Regions from separate parts of the Homo sapiens genome. Here regions 1, 2, 3 and 4 are each linked to region 5. The links come from fine-mapping of genetic effects on gene expression. A gene starts in region 5. Each other region holds a variant in brackets. All regions are shown on one strand. Distances are from middle to middle. Region 1 overlaps VNN2 (vanin 2). Region 2 overlaps VNN2 (vanin 2). Region 3 overlaps TARID (TCF21 antisense RNA inducing promoter demethylation). Region 4 has its middle 20 kb from the start of VNN1. Region 5 holds the start of VNN1 (vanin 1).

The links. PIP is the estimated chance that this variant, and not a neighbour inherited with it, causes the effect.
Region 1: its variant is fine-mapped to the expression of VNN1 in whole blood (TOPMed, PIP above 0.99).
Region 2: its variant is fine-mapped to the expression of VNN1 in blood mononuclear cells (TOPMed, PIP above 0.99).
Region 3: its variant is fine-mapped to the expression of VNN1 in monocytes after R848 (Quach 2016, PIP 0.95).
Region 4: its variant is fine-mapped to the expression of VNN1 in whole blood (INTERVAL, PIP above 0.99).

Annotation. Positions count from the first base shown.
Region 1 is chr6:132,742,217-132,746,339 of GRCh38, forward strand. VNN2 (vanin 2) reads right to left here. Exons shown (of 7, transcript NM_004665.6): 7 at 1,654-2,275. The coding sequence ends at 2,084. Among named protein-coding and RNA genes, the nearest start is that of VNN2, 14 kb to the right of the region's middle. The variant T/C (reference allele first, on the strand shown) is at 1,694.
Region 2 is chr6:132,750,528-132,754,650 of GRCh38, forward strand. It overlaps VNN2 (vanin 2), which reads right to left. Exons shown (of 7, transcript NM_004665.6): 4 at 1,934-2,222; 5 at 618-991. Among named protein-coding and RNA genes, the nearest start is that of VNN2, 5.3 kb to the right of the region's middle. The variant G/A (reference allele first, on the strand shown) is at 1,759.
Region 3 is chr6:133,558,331-133,562,453 of GRCh38, forward strand. All of the region lies in intron 5 of TARID (TCF21 antisense RNA inducing promoter demethylation), which reads right to left. Among named protein-coding and RNA genes, the nearest start is that of EYA4-AS2, 100 kb to the left of the region's middle. The variant T/C (reference allele first, on the strand shown) is at 2,615.
Region 4 is chr6:132,732,006-132,736,128 of GRCh38, forward strand. It overlaps the pseudogene VNN3P. Among named protein-coding and RNA genes, the nearest start is that of VNN1, 20 kb to the left of the region's middle. The variant G/C (reference allele first, on the strand shown) is at 2,468.
Region 5 is chr6:132,712,187-132,716,309 of GRCh38, forward strand. VNN1 (vanin 1) reads right to left here and starts at 1,869. Exons shown (of 7, transcript NM_004666.3): 1 at 1,640-1,869. The coding sequence starts at 1,849.

The sequences.
Region 1 (4,123 bases), 30 kb after region 5:
AGCTACTCAGGAGGCTGAGGCAGGAGAATGGCGTGAACCTGGGAGGCGGAGCTTGAAGTGAGCCGAGATCGCACCACTGCACTCCGGCCTGGGCAACAGAGCGAGACTCTATCTCAAAAAATAAATAAATAAATAAGTAAAAATAAAATAAAATGGGATGAAAGATAGTTATCAAAGAAATATAAAGGCCAAATGAAACTATGCTTGGGTTGTTTGATAAAATAAAATGTATGTGAGAAACCACGGTGGAGATGGGTTAAAATGTGGTGCAGGCAATTTTACAGTAGAGCATTAAGTGCTCTTTAATTTCCTTGGCACTTGGTGCTTTCGTTTTTTGTTTTTATTTTTAACAAACTGAGGTACAGCTGAGAGCTCCAAGCTTGAATCAGAACTGTCCCTTTCTGTGAAAGGAGCTCCTTGCTTGTATCTTACTCAAACCAGTTTGTTTAACGTCAGCTGTTGATTTTCAATCAACATCTAAACTTCTGCAAATGAAACGTCATTGCCCAAGAGCCAAAATACATGCTGCAAAACCACTGCACAACATCTAACTTCCTCAAGCAAAACTTGGCAAATTTTAAATGTCCCATACTTTATGAAAAGGAAAAAGAAGCCAGGCATGGTGGCTCATGCCTGTAATCCCAGCACATCGGGAGGCCAAAGTGGGTGGATCACCTGGTCAGGAGTTCGAGACCAGCCTGGCCAACATGGCGAAACTCCATCTCTACTAAAAATACAAAAATTAGCCGGGCATGGTGGTGGGTGCCTGTAATTCCAGCTACTTGGGAGGTTGAGGCAGGAGAAGCACTTGAACCCAGGAGGCGGAGGTTGCAATGAGCTGAACTCCCACCATTGCACTCCAGCTTGGGTGACAGAGTGAGACTCTGTCTCAAAAAAAAAAAAAGAAAAAGAAAAAGAAAAAAGAGCATAAAACTTTGATGATTATATGATTTGGACTATATACACAAATGCACGTTCATTACAGCTTTAAAATTGCCATCTTTGATGTCCCAATGCTGAACATAGGGAATATGTATGCTCTTCTCAAAATTAAATACAAAGTGTGGCTTAACTTCCATATTTCTTCTCTTAATACTAACCACGAGATTATAAAAGGAATCTTACTTTTCTAGTGTATTTTAGTAGAATTTTAAAATCAAATCCATAAGTAGGTTTATGACAATATGTAAAAACAAAAGATAAATGCTTCAATTGTGTTTTTTTATGTAAAAGTATTGAATTTAAAAATACTTTGGGAGATAAAAATCAGAAAATAAATCTGAAAATTCAAAATCAGTTCTTTAATTTTAAGAGTATCTGAATTAAATGATCAATAACAAATATACTAGTTTACTTCAAGTAGCATGGAATATGTGTATTTTGTAAAAAGTCAACCAAATGCTGAAAATAGTGTAACTTTTAACTGTCATGGTCTTTGTGTTATGAGATTTCTGCCTGTTAAATTACGCCATAGCCTTAAGGTGGGACAGCTGGGGCTATGAGTGCCCTGGGTCAGGTCTCCTTTGATATGAACTTGGAATAGCCATCAATTCTTCTAGCACTCAAAACTACGTTCACTGTAGAAATAAATGTCGACATTGCCTTTTGATTGGAAAGTAAATCTCCTGATAAACATTAGCACAGAAAACTAGGTGAATTCAAATAGTCTTTAATGTCAAAGGGAATTCAGTCA[T/C]AAACCTCTAAATTCCCATCATTACTATTCTCTTCAAGGGCACAGCTATGTTTGCAATGGCCCTGAAACTCCTCACTCCCATACATACAAGTCCCCCATACACACAAAGTCTCAAGCAAATGAGGCTGGAGCTGGAGTTTGATCTTCATTTATCTGACCCAAACACCCAGGCTCTTTCCATTGTTCCACACTGCAACATTTCAGAGTAGCCAAAAAAATGGACAACATTATCATAATACTTAAAAAATAATTATTGATGAGAAAAAATATTTAGGACTCACTGGTCTATACTACTGAAATAGCCCTTCAAAGTTTCTTAGTAAACTTGGGAAGCCGATAAACACATTCAGCCAAGCATATGATGCAGAAGCTGAGTGATAAAGAGACGCCCTATAACATTACAATATTTTGCAAAGCTATGATCATTAATAATATGAATATTAGCAGGTAAGTTATTGCTGAATTGCTGGTCCCACATGAGCTGTAAAGTGAGTCCTTTGTGTACCACCTCCCAAAGAGTGACACTGTTAGTATAGGCCCAGATGATCCATTCTTGTTTACCAAACGCCCATCTTTCAGCACCTAAAGAAAAGGTGGGAAAAGTACAGTCAGCTTTCTTAACATAGAAGTTAAAAGCAAATTAATCATTTTGAAACCATCCTAGATATAATGTATAGTCAAATCATTTCTGATTTAGGAGGATGCAGCAAGTAGGCCAGGCAGGGGACAGCCATTTACTACATAATGAAGACTAGAGCAATTCAAGAGGGCCCAAGATTTTAGTTTCAACAATCAAATGTAACCATTAATGGAAAGTCAAAATCAGCAGCAGCAATTCATTGAGTTCGATTATGTGCAAGACAATCAGGAACCAGAGAGTTATACATCACATCCTTCCCTCAAGAAGCTAAAGAGCTAATGGTGAAATGGAGCGGATTCTAAACATAAAGAGAGAAATCAGTTTATCAGTGTATCAGAGAAGAGAACAGGTAAGTGCTAGGAGGTCTGAGAAAAAAAAAACTGAACTGGTCTGTTTCACGGAGTGGGACACAAGCTGCCAAAAACTCAAGCTGTTAGGAATTTCTTTCAAGGGCTGTATGGTGGAAGACATTGTGGGAAGTGGACATTGAACCAGCAAAGGCTCATTCTGAGACAGAAGTGTGTGTGACAGATCAAGGCAATGTGAGTTCTCATTCTAGATTGGTTAAAACCAGTGGTGTGCTGGAGCTAGTGGTGCACAGGCTCATGAGAACAGATTGTTAAATTTCCAGGAAATTGGACAGCTGGCTGTTAAACACAGCCATTCTTTTTTTCCCCCTTTTTTGAGATGGAGTCTCGCTCTGTCACCCAGGCTGGAGTGCAGTGGCATGATCTTGGCTCACTGCAACCTCCGCCTGCTGGGTTCAAGTGATTCTCCTGCCTCAAGCTCCCCAGTAGCTGGGATTACAGGGGCGTGCCACCAAGCCCAGCTAATTTTTGTATTTTTAGTAGAGACAGGGCTTCACCATGTTGCCCAGGCTGTTCTCGAACTCCTGGCCTCAAATGGTCCTCCCAACTCAGCCTCCCAAAGTGCTGGGATTACAGGCGTGAGCTATCAAACTCTGCCAACAGATCCATTCTTGAAGCTGGTGGGATCATGGCGGGAATATTGACACAATGAAAACTGGCAAATTCCATAAGTCAGGGCTTTTTGTTTTCTACCTCAGAGAAGGAATTGTTTAAAGTTACATCACACCACTGGCTAGCGCTGAAGATTAGTGAAGAAGAGAAGAAGGAATATGATCAGAGGAAGGTGGAGATCAGACTGTGAAAGGCATTAATGACTAGATCTAGCCTGAAGCCACAGTGGAGTTTTCATAAGAGAGGAATATGTACAAAGCAATTGAACAAGAACAGAAGGAAACATGCATAGACAGTCAATAAACAGAACAAGAATAAAAGAAAATGAACCCATTAGTTGTGGAAATGGAGTTGGAATGGAGAAGAAATTGAAAATTGGGAAATTAGTTGGAGTGGAGAAGAAATTGAAAATTAGGAAAACAGATGCTTTACAACTGGGAGGAGAAAATGACTAAATATCCTAGAAGATAATGATTGTACTTCACCATTCACAAAGTGTCTTCACATGCATTATCATATTTGATCCTCACCAAATCAGTGAGGAAAATATTCTCTTCTATGAGTAGGAAATTCAGAGGTTAAGTGACTTTCCCAAGGTTATCTAACTAGTTAGTTACAGAGAACAGACTCTGCCAGTGCTTCTGACAATACACCAGAGTTGCCTAAGGTGCTAAAGCAAGATGTTTCCACATTTGTGGGCATGGTGAGTAACACCACCCTTTTAACATAAAACTAAAGTGGTGGTGGGGGTTGAGGATACACAACAAGTGTGTTGAAATCTCTGCAATAGTGATCCTCTAAGATAACGTG
Region 2 (4,123 bases), 38 kb after region 5:
GTGGCACATGCCTGTAGTCCCAGCTACTCAGGAGGCTGAGGCATGAGAATCGCTTGAACCTGGGAGGCAGAGGTTGTAGTGAGCCGAGATCATGCTACTGCACTCTAGCCAGGGTGACAGAGTGAAATTGTCTCAAAAAAAAAAAAAAGAAAAAGAAAAGAAAAGAAAAAGAAAGCTATACAAAACCCGGGACATCTGATTAGAAGAGAAACTAAAATAAAAGTAGTATCTCTATTTACTGTTAGTTTTGCAAGTGAAAATAAGACTGTTTATAATTTAGATATGTTGGCAAACCCACTTAAGGAAGTCTTCTTGATGTTCTCCACAGTAGGCTGGTTTATTAGTCAAATCGAAACTCATCATGGTTAGGTTAATAATTTTTTAAATATGCTTAAAGCAAGCAATAAGATTATACTTAATTCCCATTGTAAATATTTTATCCCAGTGTATGTACGTGCATAAATGCACGTGTGTGTGTGTGTGTTGTGTGTGTGTGTGTTGCCATCAATGCATGGAGTCAAGCCAAGGAAAAGCACCTGGTTTTCTGGAACAAATATAAAAAGTTAACCTGGAATTTACCTTTCACTTGAATGCCCTTTCATTTGAACTGAAATTACCTGCCAGTACTCTCTTCTCCTTCGGCCATGTAATCCTGTAAAAGCTCCTAGAACGTATACTTCATTCTCTTCTTTTTGTAACATTCTGTAGCTTAAATGACAGCAAAGCTCCTTTTGACAGACTGTAAGGTTTCCTGCATTTTCAAAAAGTTCTGTGAAGTTGAACCCATCCCTGGAAATAAATCCCCTGAAAGTGTTTTTCTGTACTGGAAATGGTTTGATGGTGGTGGCGTAGGCATTCCAATTAACAGCTGTTGGGTAGGCAAGCGAGGATAGGGGATGTGAATCCACCTCTGAAAGGAGAAGTTTTCCCAACTCTGTCTTCATGTCATAATGATACACTTTGGGACCATTTGGTGCATAAATACCACTTCCTGTGAATGAAAGACAAGTCTTCTAAAAACAACACCACACACAAAAAAACCAAAACTGCCAATTTCCCCATCAGAATTGGGCATGTGATCACGCCACCATATTAGTCACGATGAGAGAGGATACATGCTTCTAATTGCACTGAACACCTAACTACTTCTATTCTCTAATGGAAGAGATTAAAATAAACATTCCTTGGTCTCATTTCAATTAAACCTTAAATATAATAGCATTATTTATTAGCATTATGGAAAATTAAACCAACTACAAAAATCTTTGTAGTCAGGAGTTCCTGAAAGGTGGGGAAAGGGAATAAAAATTCTCCCCTATTCCTCATTGTGGTGGTTTTCAAATATATCCAAAAATTCCTTAAAATTCTTCTTTCTGGTGGGAGGATCTAATTCCTTTCCCCTTGAAGAGGGGCTGGACTTAGTGACTCACTTCCAATGAATAGAACATGGCAGAAGTGATGGTGGGTAACTAGTCATAAATAGCAATGTGGCTTCTTTCCTTTTCTCTCTTGTCCCCTCTCATTAATTGCTCTAGAGGAAGACAGCAGCCATGTCACGAGGATATGCCATGCAGCCATAGGAGGAGACAAAGGGCAAGATATAGAGGCTTCCATGGCCACTGAGGAAAGTAGTAGCTGGGTAGCATTTGGCAAATTACTTGCACTCTCTGTATGTCAATTTTCTCATCTGCAAAATTGGGATGACACTATCTATCTCATATAATTATTGTAATAATTAAATGAATAATACACATAAAG[G/A]TCTTAGTATAACCATAGCTTATAATCAAGTGCTAGCTTTTTTTTTCTATTGTGAAACTATGACAAACACAGTAAGAATTTCCAATAAGCAAAAAATTAATACAAGTCATAACTGAGGCATTCATTTCTCTGCACTTAAAAATATAAGATGAAACCTAACCTGGTCATGAATTACCTGTCATATTTAGGCTGACATGATGTGTGTTGGCCACAAGAAGATTAACTCCCATTCCCATTGCCCAAGCTGAATGGAATTCAATAGCTGTCAAAAGGGGCAAAACGTTCATCCAAGCTGTGGGAAACAGTATGGTGTCCACATGGAAATCTTTCACCAGGGTAACACCAGGATCATAGAAGAATATATCAAAGCACGTGAAAATGCCAAACCTTCCAAATGCGGTGTTGAAAGTCACCAACTCCGGCTTTTCAGGGACATTAAACTGAGGCTCAGAGTACAGGTGGTACTACAACAAATGGATAGGAGAAAACCAGTAAAACCTTATTTGTTGAAGAAATGACTCATAAAAACCCTCTAAGTTGGTAACAGATTTGGCTATGGTCAACTGCAGGGAATCTCCTAGGAAGCGGATAAATCTGGCAATTGGAAGTAAATTTCTAAGGAAAATGTGGAGGAATATGTAACATACGTCCATAGCATCTCTCATCTCCTCTCTCTCCCTTCTCTCTCTTTCCCTCTCTCTCAGTTAAGAGCCAAATACCCCCCCATAAACCCCAAAGTCCGTAAGCTTTTTTTAAATTTAATTTAATTTTATTTTTCTGAGACGGAGCCTCGCTCTATCACCCAGGCTGGAGTGCAGTGGCATGATTTCGGCTCACTGCAATCTCCACCTCCTGAGTTCAAGCGAGTAGCTGGGATTACAGGCACGTGCCACTATGCCCGGCTAATTTTTTCGTATTTTTAGTAGAGTCGGGGTTTCACCGTGTCAGCCAGGATGATCTCAATCTCCTGACCTCATGATCCACCCACCTGGGCCTCCCAAAGTGCTGGGATTACAGGAATGAACCACAGCACCTGGCCCTATAAGCTTCTTAAAAGTTAAAAAACATGCATTATTCTTCTTTGAATCCTTGGTGCCTAGAAACGTAATATTAATAGATGCATAATAAATACCTGTAAGTCAGGTGAGAGATGTCATCTCTCTCTTTAGTGTCCCATCCAAAGTAATCTCAGTGACTCTTGCCCACCTTTCAAAATTACCATAGAAATGTATTTAATTTCCCGATTCCTTCTAGGTAAACTAAAAAAAAACTTAGTCTAATATAATAAATGGAATCAACAGTTAATAAAATGGTCTGCAGTGTAGAAAAAATATCTAAAAAATAGAAAAGAAATTGGGCTTTACTACTATTTTAAGAATTGACAGGCCAGGCAAGGTGGCTCATGCCTGTAATCCAAGCACTTTGGGAGGCCAAGGCAGGCAGATAACTTGAGGCCAGGAGCTCAAGACCAGCCTGGCCAACATGGAGAAACCCCATCTCTACTAAAAAATCCAAAAATTAGCCGGGTGTGGTGGTATGCACCTGTAATCCCAGCTACTCAGGAGGCTGAGGCAGGAGAATGGGTTGAACCTGGGAGTCAGAGGTTGCAGTGAGCTGAGATCGTGCCATTGCACTCCAGCCGGGATGACAGAGCCAGACTCTGCCTAAAAAAAAAAAAAAAAAAAAAAAAAAAGGAATTGATCGACAAAGGTATTCTCATTAGGTTCACATATGTCAGAGGTCATGGGTTACAAACGGTCCCTGAGGTACCCTCAGGGAAGAGTGAGAGCCTTTCAACTTAGACAGGGTGACTGCAGGTTCCTTGCTAGTTTGTCCACATTCAGTGCACTGTGCCATCCTGCATATTTACAGAATGGCAGAATAGCTTCAAATGATTACTGCAAATAAACTGCATTGAAAGATAATACAAATAATGCAAACAATCTCCCAAGCAAGAAAATGGAAGCACTGACCTTTCTATTTTTACTATGAGACACATTTTAAGAAGAAAGTGAAATGCAGTGATATATATGAAAAGAAGCTGTCAAAATCCACAAAATTATGAAGAAAGCATTTTGAAATTGTTGCACTTTATAAATACACACACAAAAATACATATATTGAGGACTTATGTTAACGATTTTTTCCAATAGGGGTCCATGATCGAAATCATTTGAAAACCATTGGTTTAACATCCCTCCTCTTAATTAATATTTATATTTTAACTGAGACTGCCAGGAGATAATTTCTCCACTCCAAAGATTCTGAGGCTACAGTTTAAGATGCTTACAAAATATCTGGGTGTGGAGAAGGGACATTCATACTGCCTGTACATCACACATATCCATTTAAAAGGCCAGGCTTC
Region 3 (4,123 bases), 850 kb after region 5:
GACAATCAAGGTCTCTCCAAATAGGATTATGACACAAAGCTGTAGAATTGATATACCCCTGAGGTAGGACAGTAAAGGTATATTGTCGAGACCAGCTTGGTCGAGGGGACCCTAAGCCAGCGGCGCTAGAGGAATTAAAGACCCACACACAGAAATATAGAGGTGTGAGGTGGGAAATCAGGGGTCTCACAGCCTTCAAAGCTGAGAGCCCCGAACAGAGATTTACTCACGTATTTATTAACAGCAAGCCAGTCATTAGCATTGTTTCTACAGATATTAGATTAACTAAAAGTATCCCTTATGGGAAACAAAGGGATTGGCCGAAATAGAGGGATGGGTTGGGCTAGTTATCTGCAGCAGGAGCATGTCCTTAAGGCACAGATCACTCATGCTGTTGTTTGTGGTTTAAGAATGCCTTTAAGCGGTTTTCCTCCCTGGGCGGGCCAGGTGTTCCTTGCCCTCATTCCAGTAAACCCACAACATTCCAGCATGGGCATTATGGCCATCATGTCACAGTGCTGCAGAGATTTTGTTTATGGCCAGTTTTGGGGCCAGTTCATGGCCAGATTTTGGGGGGCCTGTTCCCAACAGTATATTGCTGGCCTTGCCAGCTGAAGGCAAATTGCTTCTGGTGGGCCTTATGGTCAGAAATGGAGAAAATGCCATTTGCCAAATCAATGGCTGCATACCAGGTAACAGGAGATGTGTTAATTTGCTCAAGCAATGAAACCACATCTGGTACAGCAGCTGCAACTGGAGTCACCACTTGGTTAAGCTTATAATAATCCACTGTCATTCTCCAAGATTGATCTGTCTTCTGCACAGGCCAAATGGGAGAGTTGAATGGAGATGTGGTGGGAATCACCACCTCTGCGTCTTTCAAGTCCTTGATGGTGGCACTGATCTCCACAGTCCCTCCAGGGATGTGATATTGTTTTTGATTTACTATTCTTCTAGGTACAGGCAGCTCTAATGGCTTCCATTTGGCCTTTCCCACCACAATAGCCCTCACCCTACCAGTCAGAGAGCCAATGTGGGGATTCTGCCAGCAGCTAAGTATGTCTATGCCAATCATGCATTCTGGCCCTAGGGAAATGACCACAGGATGAGTCCAGGGACCCACTGAAGCCATTGTAAGTCAGACTTGAGATAAAACTCCATTAATTACCTGTCCTCTATAAGCCTCTACTTTAACTGGATACCATAATGATGTTTTGGGTCCCCTGGAATCAATGTTAGCTCAGTGCCAGTGTCCAGTAGTCCCCAAAATGTTTGATCATTTCCCTTTTCCCAGTGCACAGATGCCCTGGGAAAGAGCCAAAGGTCTCCTTGGGAATGGATGGGAGAAAGATTCACTGCATAAATTGTCAGTAATATAGTGGGTTCCTTCTTCAAGGGGACTCAGCCTCCCCTTCATTCAAGGGGCTCTGGGTCTGTAAACTGGCTCAAGTCTGGAAATTGATTAAGGGGCCATGATGACCTGTTTTTATAATTCAAATTAGTCTTTTGTCTATGCGACCTAGAAGTTTTCTGCTTATATAAATTAAGTAGGAATGCAGTAAACTTCCTATTAATTTCACTTATAGTAACACCATGATTAATTTGTCAATGCCAGAGCTCTACACGAGTCAGATTATTCTGATTGCTGCTTTGCCTCTGCAGTCCATGATGGTAGCTATGCCCACCTTGCCTTTGATGGTTGAGTTCCACCAGTTGGCCCCTGCCACCTCATGATCCAATTATTCCTATTGTATTTAAATTTTGTAGTTGAGTGACTGTGGTTCTCACAGTTAGATCTGACATACAGAGCAGAGCACCCACAAAGCTCTTCAAAGATGCAGGCACTGCCCTCACAAATCTATTTCACAGGGCATTGGTCAAGAGTATATCTTCTGCACCCTCCCAGCTGGGATAAGTAGGTCTAAAGTGACTAATCCACTCCACCATCCCGATCTCCTTAAGTGTTTGGATCCCTTTCTCTACATTAAACCAAGGGAGATCAGGCATTTCCAGCTGGGTCACAGTGGGCCATCTTTTAATCCATATTGCAGCTAACAAAGCAAATAAACTATTAGAACCTTTCTGTAACTCCCCAAGCTGCAACATTAAATGCAGAATCCATACTTATTGGGCCCAAATCAATAAATTCAGCCTGATCCAACTCTTATGTTCCTTCTATCCTTATCCCACACCCTTAATATCCATTCCCATGCCTGTTCTCCAAATTTCTGCTCATATAAATTAGAAAACTCAAGCAATTCTTTTTGAGTGTAGCACACCTCCTCATGGGTCACACTTTGAACCTTACCTCTAGGGTCCCACCAGGACTTTAGTCTAGAAGGAAACAGGAGTGTTTGTGGTGGCTCCTGAGGAGAATCAACATCATCTTGCCTGACAACTGCCTCAGGGGAGGCCATCACTCTTGCCTCAAGCAGCACAGGGTTTATCTCCTTAGACAAAGGTGGAAAGGCTGATGGCAGCATGGATCAGGGAGGGGATGTTGCCACTACTTGGGATAGGGAAGCTGTTTCTTCTGGCAAAAAAGGTTCATCAGAGTTTACAAACTCAGTGTCCCCAGCTTCATCAGGGTCCTCCCACACGTCCCTATTCCAAG[T/C]TACAGGGTCCCATTCCTTTCCAATCAGTGCCCTCACTTTAACAGTGGACACCTGGCAAGGCTGTGCATGCATCTTTTGTTGCAGGTCAGCCACTCACATAAGAGTCTGTGTCTGTTTTTCCCCAATTTCAGCTCTTTCTCTACAGGAGCTAAGACTCTCACTTAGGGCAATCTTAGCAGATTTGAGGCTCAATATCTGCTTCTGAAGCAGAATCCCTGAGTTCATCATTTTCTTTCATCACTTTGTCCACTGAACTTAGGAGCAACCAATCAACTTCATTATGTTCCTTGGTTCTCCACATATGGTCAAAGGTATTATGTATAGAGTCATTAAACTCCTTGCCTCTCATGAGTGGTGAATCAGGAGTATTAAATGCATTTACTTTGCATAACTGTCTAAACAGTTTCCGCCAAGCACTATCAGTGTTTTCATACTATTAGAAGTAGAGTCCTTAGCATTTTTTGGTCTAATCATATTAAGCAGCCAACTCCAGAAACCCCAAAACCAGTGAAATAACCCCATTCTTAATATTCTGTTCCTCTAGAAACACTCCTGATACCAAAATGTATATTGGTCAGGGCGTCGGGGCTCTATAGAGGGACAGAACTAATTATATATATATGTGTATATATATGTGTGTGTGTGTGTGTGTGTGTATATATATATGTCCCTCTATAGAGGGACAGAACTAATTTTTATATATATATATATATAGGTGTATATATATATATATATAGGTGTGTGTATATATATAGGTGTGTGTATATATATAGGTATATATATACATATATGTATATGTATATGTATATGTAAAGGAGAGTTTATTAAGAATTAACTCACACAATCACAAGGTTCCACAACAGGCCATCTGCAAGCTGAGGAGCAAGGAGAGTCAGTCTGAGTCCCAAACTGAAGAACATGGAGTCCAATCTTCGAGGGCAGGAAGCATCTAGCTTGGGAGAAAGATGTAGGCTTGGAAGCGAAACCAGTCTAGTCTTTTCATGTTTTTCTGCCTGCTTTATATTCTGGCCACTTTGGCAGCTGATTAGATGGTGGCCACCCAGATGAAGGGTGGGTCTGCCTTTCCCAGCCCACTGACTCAAATGATAATCTCCTTTGACAATACCCTCACAGACACACCCAGGATCAATATTTTGCATCCTTCAATCTAATCAAGTTGACACTCAGTATTAACCATTGCAGTCAGTATCTTTTCTTATACTGGTTGGCCATTTATATATCTTCTTAGACAAATGTCTATTTAAGTTCTTTGCCCATATTTTAACTGAGTTATATTTGTTGTTGTTACTGTGGAATTTCCTCACATATTCTGAATAATAATCTCTTATCAGATATATGATTTGAAAATATATTCTTCCATTCCAAGGGTTGTTTTTCACTCTGATGAGTGTTTTCTTTGTTGTGCAGAAGTTTTAAGTTTCATGTAGTCCCATTTGTCTATTTTTAGTTCTGTTGCCTGTGCTTTTGATGTCATATTCAAGAAATCA
Region 4 (4,123 bases), 20 kb after region 5:
GTGCAGTGGTGCAATCATAGCTCACTGCAGCCTCAAACTCCTGGGCCCCAGTGATCCTCCTGCTTCAGCCTCTCGAGTAGCTGGGATTATAGGTGTGAGCCACCACACCTGGCTAAATTTTTTATTTGCCGAAATAGGGTCTGGCTTTGCTGCGCAGGCTGGTCTCAAACTTCTGGCTTCAAGCAGTCCTCCTGCTTTGGCTTCCCACAGTGATGGGATTACAAGTGTGAGCCACCACGCCTGGTCACACCTACTATTGTTGAAAGACAATTGCAACAAATAACCAACTAGTCATCAGTATCTCAAGTCATTTACCAAACAGGAGATATGCCAGATGATATACACTATGAAACATAAGCAGTATCTGCAGATTCAACACTATTTCTTTTCTTCTTTTTTTTTTTTTTTTTTTTTTGAGACAGAGTCTCACTCTATCGTTCAAGCAATTCTCATGCCTTAGCCTCCCGAGTAGCTGGGATTACAGGCACACACCACCACACCCAGCTAATTTTTGTATTTTAGTAGAGATGGGGTTTTACCACGTTGGCCAGGCTGGTCTCAAACTCCTAATCTCAAGTAATCCACCTGCCTTGGCCTCCCAAAGTGCTGGGATTATAGGCATGACCCACAGCACCCAGCCTCAACACTATTTCTAACATACTACCAATGTCATTTTTTCACAGATTTATAAACAAAATTTCTAAAATTCATATGGAACCAAAAAAGAGCCTGAATCGCCAAACCAATCCTAAACAAAAAGAACAAAGCCTGAGGCATCACATTACCCAAGGCTACAGTAATCAAAACAACATGGTACTGTTAGAAAAACAGACACATAGACCAATAGAACAGAATAGAGAGCCTAGAAACAAAGCCGCACACCTACAGCCATCTGTAGCTCAAACAAAGTTCACAAAAATAAGTATGGGGAAAGGACTCCTTATTCAACAAAAGGTGCTGGAATATCTGGCTAGCCATATGCAGAAGATTGAAACTGGACCCCTATCTTTCACCATGTACAAAAATTAACTCAAGATGTATTAAAGATTTAAATGTATGACCTCAAACTATAAGAATCCTAGAAGAAAATCTAAGAAACACCATTCTGGACATGAACCTTGGAAAATAATTTATGACTAAGTCCTCAAAAGCAATTGCAACAAAAACAAAACTTGACATGTAGGACCTAATTTAACTAAAGAGCTCTGTACAGCAAAAGCAACTATCAACAGAGTAAATAGACAACCTACAGAATGGGAGAAAATATTTGCAAACTAGGCATCTAACAAAGGTCTACTATCCAGAATCCATAAGGAACTTAAATCAATAAGCAAAAACAAAACAAATAACCCCATTGAAAAGTGGGCAAAAGACATGAACAGACACTTCTCAAAAGAGGACATACAAGTGGCCAAAAAACACGTGAACAAACACTCAACATCACTTATCATCAGAGAAATGCCAAGCAAAACCACAATGAGATATCATCTCACACCAGTCAGAATGACTGTTAACAAAAAGTCAAATAATAAAAGATGCTATGGAGAAAGGGGAACACTTACACACTATTGGTGGAAATGTAAATTAGTTCAGCCATTGTGGAAAGCAGTTTGGAGATTTCTCAGAGAACTTAAAACACAGCAACCATTCGACTCACAATCCCATTACTAGGTATATACCCAAAGGAAAGGAAATCATTCTACCAAAAAGACTCGTGCACTTGTATGTTCATCGCAGCACTTTTCACAACAGCAAAGATATGGAATTAACCTAGGTGCCCACAAGAAGGAACAAAATCATGTCTTTTGCAGCACCAAAGGACATTATCCTCAGCAAGTTAACACAGGAACAGAAAACCAAATACTGCATGTTCTCACTTATAAGTGGGAGCTAAGCATTGGGAACTCATGGCCATAAAGATGACAGCAATAGACACTGGGAACTAATAGAGGGGAGAGAGAGAGAGGAAGGCAAGGGCTGAAAACCTTCCTGTTGTATACTATGCTGGGTGGTGCAATCATTGTACCCCAATCCTCAGCGTCATGCAATTTGCCCATGTAACAAACCTGCACATGTACTCCCTCAATCTAAGCTAAAAGTTGAAATTACAGGGAAAAAAAAGCATCTACATCCTATGCCACAGATTGACTATTTATCAACACAATTACCAGTCAAATTCAGTGAGTTTACTGTTGGTGTTTTACCAAATCACAACTTTTTGTTTAGAAATTAATGATATGATATTACCTCCAGGGGTCTCTACATGGAATCCAGTTCACTCCAGGGTCTGGTATATCCTCTAGATAGGGGTAAATGCTCTCCCTGGTGAAGATCCAACCATAGATTCCATCTTCTGGGGTCACAATGATATGTGCACCCTGCTCGAAACAAGTGGGGCAAAAAAGTTTGTCATGAATTCCAAATACTCTTTGACCAAACTGCAAGTCTCCTTTACAAGTATAAAAGG[G/C]TAATACCTGCTTCGCTGCCAGCTTAACTGCTTTCTCCAAAACATCTATGTTCTTGTTCATCAGGAGCAAAGCTTCTTCTTTTGAAACAGGTGTTTCTGTTCTGTTTGGTAATATCACCGCATGCTCATATACTGCAGCAATAAAAGTGTCCAGTGCACCAACACTCAGAGCAAGGAGGGCAAAAACTGCCACACATTTTGGAAAATGTGATATAATCATAACTAAAATTTAGTGATCTTTGAAAAACAAACTCAGATTCTTACGTTTTGTTTCACTGGAAAAACTTTACATTAAATCCCTCCTGGCAATCAGCTGTTTATATTTTCTTGCACATATATTACACAACACAGCATTGAGAAAGGATGTTGTGCAAGAAAACTGACAGCCAGGACGTAATTGGATTGATTCAAGTGTACAGTGCAGTTGTTGACATTGTTCAGAGTCAAGTCAACACTAAAAGATTGAGCCAACCAGATGAATTCACCCCAGTCCAAAACACACTGGCAGTTGAAGTCTTTTCTAATAAAAAAAAATTTTCCTGGTAAGCCAACATTTCTATTAATAGGGCCAATATTGGAAGGTAGTCATCATAGCAACAATTTGTTGAGCACTCTACTTACATATTTGTATGGCCATTTCTATTTGAAAAGCCCTTGTTCTCCATCCGTCTAAGTTCCAGCTCCCCCTAGAGTCCTCCCAAATCCACTCCAGTCCTAAGTGATATTTCTGAACTCCTATAGCATTTTTTTCTGTGCTGCTGAATGTCTCTCACTCCTTGCTGTTGTCTTGACCTTTAATTTAAATATTATACCAATACTTAATATTATATATGTATGTTTTGTCTTCTTAAAGAGATTAAAAAGAAACTTGCTGTTTTCTTTCAGAACATCCATGTCCAATAAACATCTAGACAGAGATGATGTATCCTGGGATGTGGCCCCTGGAGGGTAAGGGAAGTGTCCTGCTCACTGTTGAACCTCATCACCCCAGCACATGTGTGACAGATGGTGAAAGCTCAATATATGAATGAATGTTGAATGACGGAATCTACTACCTGATGGGCCAGTCTATTCCACCTTTGAACATTGCCAATTTTAAGAACATTCTTGTTATTGAGATGCAATTTACTTTACCTGTCTTCTACAGTTTAAACCCGCTTCCATATGAAGACTAATCAATAATTCAAAAAGTGTTAAGTTCTCCTTTAATTCTTTTATTTTTTAAACATATCATCCTTATAAGTCCCTTAAGGGCAGGGTCACATTATAATTCTCTGCTGCTTCTATAGAATTTTATACTGTGCTAAGCTCTGTAAATGTTTTTTGATTAGTTAAATTCACTTCCCTCGCCCAATTTTGGATTGAATCTCCTTGTTTGAATATCAGTTAATTTAAAATGTAGAATTTTTTTTAAGGTTTAAATCTCTGATTCTAGAACAATTAACACTGCTTCTCCCTCTTGAGATTCTTTCTAAGATCTAAGGAAAATTGTAAGTTATGGAGATTTGTGTCTATTTTGGGTTTGGTTTGTTTCTATAATTCAAAGTCCCTTGGTTTCAATAAACTTTTCCATTATCCAAATATTTCTGCTCCCAGATACCCCACAGTGTTTCCATATGTCCTTATGCCCTGATACCATTTCAGGAAATAAGGACA
Region 5 (4,123 bases):
CTGCCCAGGCTGGAGTGCAATGGCTAGATCTCGGCTTACCACAATCTCCACCTCCCGGGTTCAAGCGATTCTCCCGCCTCAGCCTCATAAGTAGCTAGGATCACAGGCATCTGCCACCACGCCTGGCTAATTTTTGTATTTTTAGTAGAGATGGGGTTTCTCCATATTGGTCAGGATGGTCTTGAACTCCCAACCTCAGGTGATCCGCCTGCTTCAGCCTCCCAAAGTGTTGGAATTACAGACATGAGCCACCGCACCTGGCTTAGTCAAGCATTTTAATTTTCTAATCCTGCCATTGTTGTTTCCTATGGCAGTCGTTAACTATAAACCTAGCTTATCCTGGAACCAAGCCTCTCCTTGAACTTTCGCTGATGACTGTGCCTGTGTCAAGACTGATTAATAACTTAAATATTCTGTTTATTTCCTCCTCTGCCCTAGCTTTCCCCTGCAAACATGATTCCTGCTTCTCAGAAAAAGAGGAGCCACAAACTGGTTACTTGAACTGTCCCATGCCTACAAGTACTGCCTGAGCTAACCTGGGCACCTTCCAATTAGAGAGTCACCTTAAAAAGCTCTGTGACCTTCAAGGAAATAGTTGGACTAAGGATGAAAAAGAACATCAGAACTCCTGATAACCTTTTAAATATTAGTATATATAAGAATATAGGGCAGTCACGGTAGCTCATGCCTGTAATCCCAGCACTTTGGGAGCCCAAGGCAGGTGGATCACCTGAGGTCAGGAGTTCAAGTACAGCGTGGGCAACATGGCAAAATCCCATCTCTACAAAAAATACAAAACTTAGCTGGGCACGGTGGCATGCATCTGTGGTCCCAGCTACTCTGGAGACTGTAGTGGGAGAATCACCTGAGCCCGGGAAGTCAAGGCTGCAGTGAGACGTGATCACACCACTATACTCCATCCTGGGTGACAGAGTGAGACCTTAACTCAACAACACAAAAGAATATATATTTATAGATATATGTAATACACATTTATCCATGACTTTTATCACACTTCATGTATTCCTGGTCTACACCTAATCGATCAATAGCTTTTAAAATAATATTTGTGTAAACCACAATTTATACTGTATGATTAACTTCAAACTGAAACCTTCACTAAACTTAAGGACTCACAATGCATTACATATACTTTTATCTTGTAATTAGAATGAAGTGTGAAGTATATAATGCATGCTGGCAAGGAATTGAAAACTTAAATTTGTTTTCAGATTATAAATTTATTCGAAAACCTGCAAAGCCTTAATAGCACATGAGTACATGAAGGCCACTAATACTCTGAAAATAGCACCTAGTCCCTGACCCATTTATCCTCCATCCTCCATCTGTACCAGAAAAGGGGAACAAAGATGTTGAATTTATGGCCAGTTCCTCAAAGGTCTGCTGCTTCTTGATAATGAGCAAATTGTTCTTTTCTTAACTTTGTTCTTACTTTTAGGGAAGTCCTTGCTCTAATTTTGAGAGGAAAGTAGAATTCTAACTGTAAAATAAAGGTTCTTGGCTACTCTGATACATATATCATCTAAAAGTGTAACTGACCCTGACAGTGGCCCTGTCTCCTAGGACCCCCTCCTTTCTCATAGAATCCAGTACACTGGAGAGATGGTAGAGATGGTACCTGATCTGCTGCTGATGTGATCGCTCCTTCCAAAATGTCCAGATTCCGATTCATTAATGCCAAAGCCTCCTCACGAGACACTGGTGTTAGGGTGGCATTGGGCAATATCGCTGCATGCTCATAAACAGCTGCAGTGAAAGTGTCCTGGCAGCTGGCTCTTGAGACATAGAAAAGCAAAATTGCCACGTAAGCTGGCAACTGAGTAGTCATGCTGAAGTCCAATGAGTGCTGAAAAACAGAGCATGTCCTGGTATTTATAGAAAGAAGACACGTGGTGTCCAGAACTTAGTACCTTAAACTACGGAAGTTAATTAAGAAAACGCTATGATTTCATAGCATTGTTACATAACAAAAGACCCTACCTTATTGCAGTAATTTGTGAAGATTAACTCAAGAACTCTATGTACATTAGTTCGCTAGGGCTGCCTAACAAAATACAATAAACTGGGTGGTGTAAAAAATAAAAAATTTATTGCTTTGCAGTTCTGGAGGGTGGGAGTCCCAGATGAAGGTGTCAGCAGAGTTGGTTCCTCCTGAGGGCGGTGAAGGAAAGATGTGTTCCAGGCCTCTCTCCTTGACCCATAGATGGCTGCCTTCTCCCTGTGTCTCTTCATATGCTATTCTCCCCATGTGTGTGCCTGTATCCAAGTTTTCCCTTTTTGTGAGGACACCACTCTAATCTTTAACACAGGGAAAGGGAAAATCCCAGCTCTAGCTTTTTTTGTCATCGTTGTTGTTTGTTTATTGTTGTTGTTGTTTGAGATGGAGTTTCACTCTTGTCACCCAGGCTAGAGTGCAGTGGCGAAATCTCGGCTCACTGCAACCTCCGCCTCTCGGGTTCATGTGATTCTCCTGCCTCAGCCTCCCAAGTAGCTGGGATTACAGGCGCCCGCCACCACGCCAGGCTAATTTTTTGTATTTTTAGTAGAGATAGGGTTTCGCCGTGTTGGGCAGGCTGGTCTCAAATTGCTGACCTCAGGTGATCCACCTGCTTTGTTTTTATGCCAAATAAGGGCAGAAGAAAAAAGCCAACTGAAGGTCATAAACCCAGGGGTACAGGCTCACTGAAAGACTGAGACTCAATCATAGGACCAATTCGATTTAGTGCCCACTGTACTCCAGTATAACTTCATCTTAACTAATTAGATCTGAAATGACCCCTTTTCCAAAAAAGTTACATTCTAAGATACTGACAGTTAGGACTTCAACATATAAATTTTTGGAATTCATATATTTTGGAATGTCAACACAAGACATTCAAATAATTTTAAAACTTTATTATTATTTTCATGTGAATATTTCAGCTCTACACTTTGATTTACTTTATTTTCCTCAAAATGGGGAAGCCAGGACAAAGAGGAATACAAAAGAGTTACTCATTTTCTATTGCTATATAACAAATTATCCCCAAATTCAGCAGCTTCAAAAAGCAAAAATACATCATCTCCCACTTTCTCTGGGTCAGGAATCCAGGGGCAGTTTAGCTGGTGCCTCTGGCCCAAGGTCTCTTTCACAAGGCTGCAGTCAAGCAGCTGCCAGGGCTAGCTATATCAAGGCTTGACTCCAGGAGGATTCACTTCCGAGCTCCAAGCTCCCTCATGTGGCTGACGGCAGGGATCAAGACCTCATTGGTTGTTGCCCAGAGACATGAGTTCCTAGTGATGCAAACCTCACCATAGGGCAGCCCGCATTATGGTATCTGGATTCCCTTAGAGCCAGACAGCAAGTGAACCCACTGGAGATGGAAGCCACGGATGCTTCGTAATGTAATTGGGGAAGCAACACCTCATCGCTTTTGTTGTATTCTATCCAATAAAGCATTAGGAACCATCTTTGAAGCTGCTTATCACAGAGGCAACAGAGGTGTATAAAGAATCAGAGCAAAAAAAAGAAAAAATGAGCTGGGGAGCGAGATCCAGAGAGAGGAGAGGGAAATTATATAAAATAGAAAAACTGTTCATAGATTTTGATATTGAGTAAGCTGGCAAATTTTGTTTCAGTTGTGCATTAAGTATAATATTTACAGAATTAGTGTTTATGTTTTTCCATTTTATTTTTAGATCTATTTGTCTTTGAATGGTATTTTTATAGTTCAATCTGCAAACAGGCATATCTAATTTTTTACTTTAGTAACTATAATGCATTTATTCTGCAATTGCCAAGGTAACCCAGGGGTTGTGGTTGGCTGGTTCTCCTGAGTTTCCGGTAAACACCAGCTTCTCTAACTGCTTGCTGACCTCTTAGGGCCTTTCCATGCCCAGGTGGGTGGGAATACCACATATTTCACAAAAAGATGTCATTATTATGTAACAATTTGTAAAAGGAAGCACTGAAATAAAAGTTAAAACTGAGATGAGTTGGCAAGAGGTTAAAAAATTACTTCTTGACCTTCTTAGATTAAAAATATTAAACCTCCCGTGGAGTTTCTAGTCCAACTCATAAAGAGCTTGGCAGTCATTTTTCCCATGCTCACACCAAGAAAAA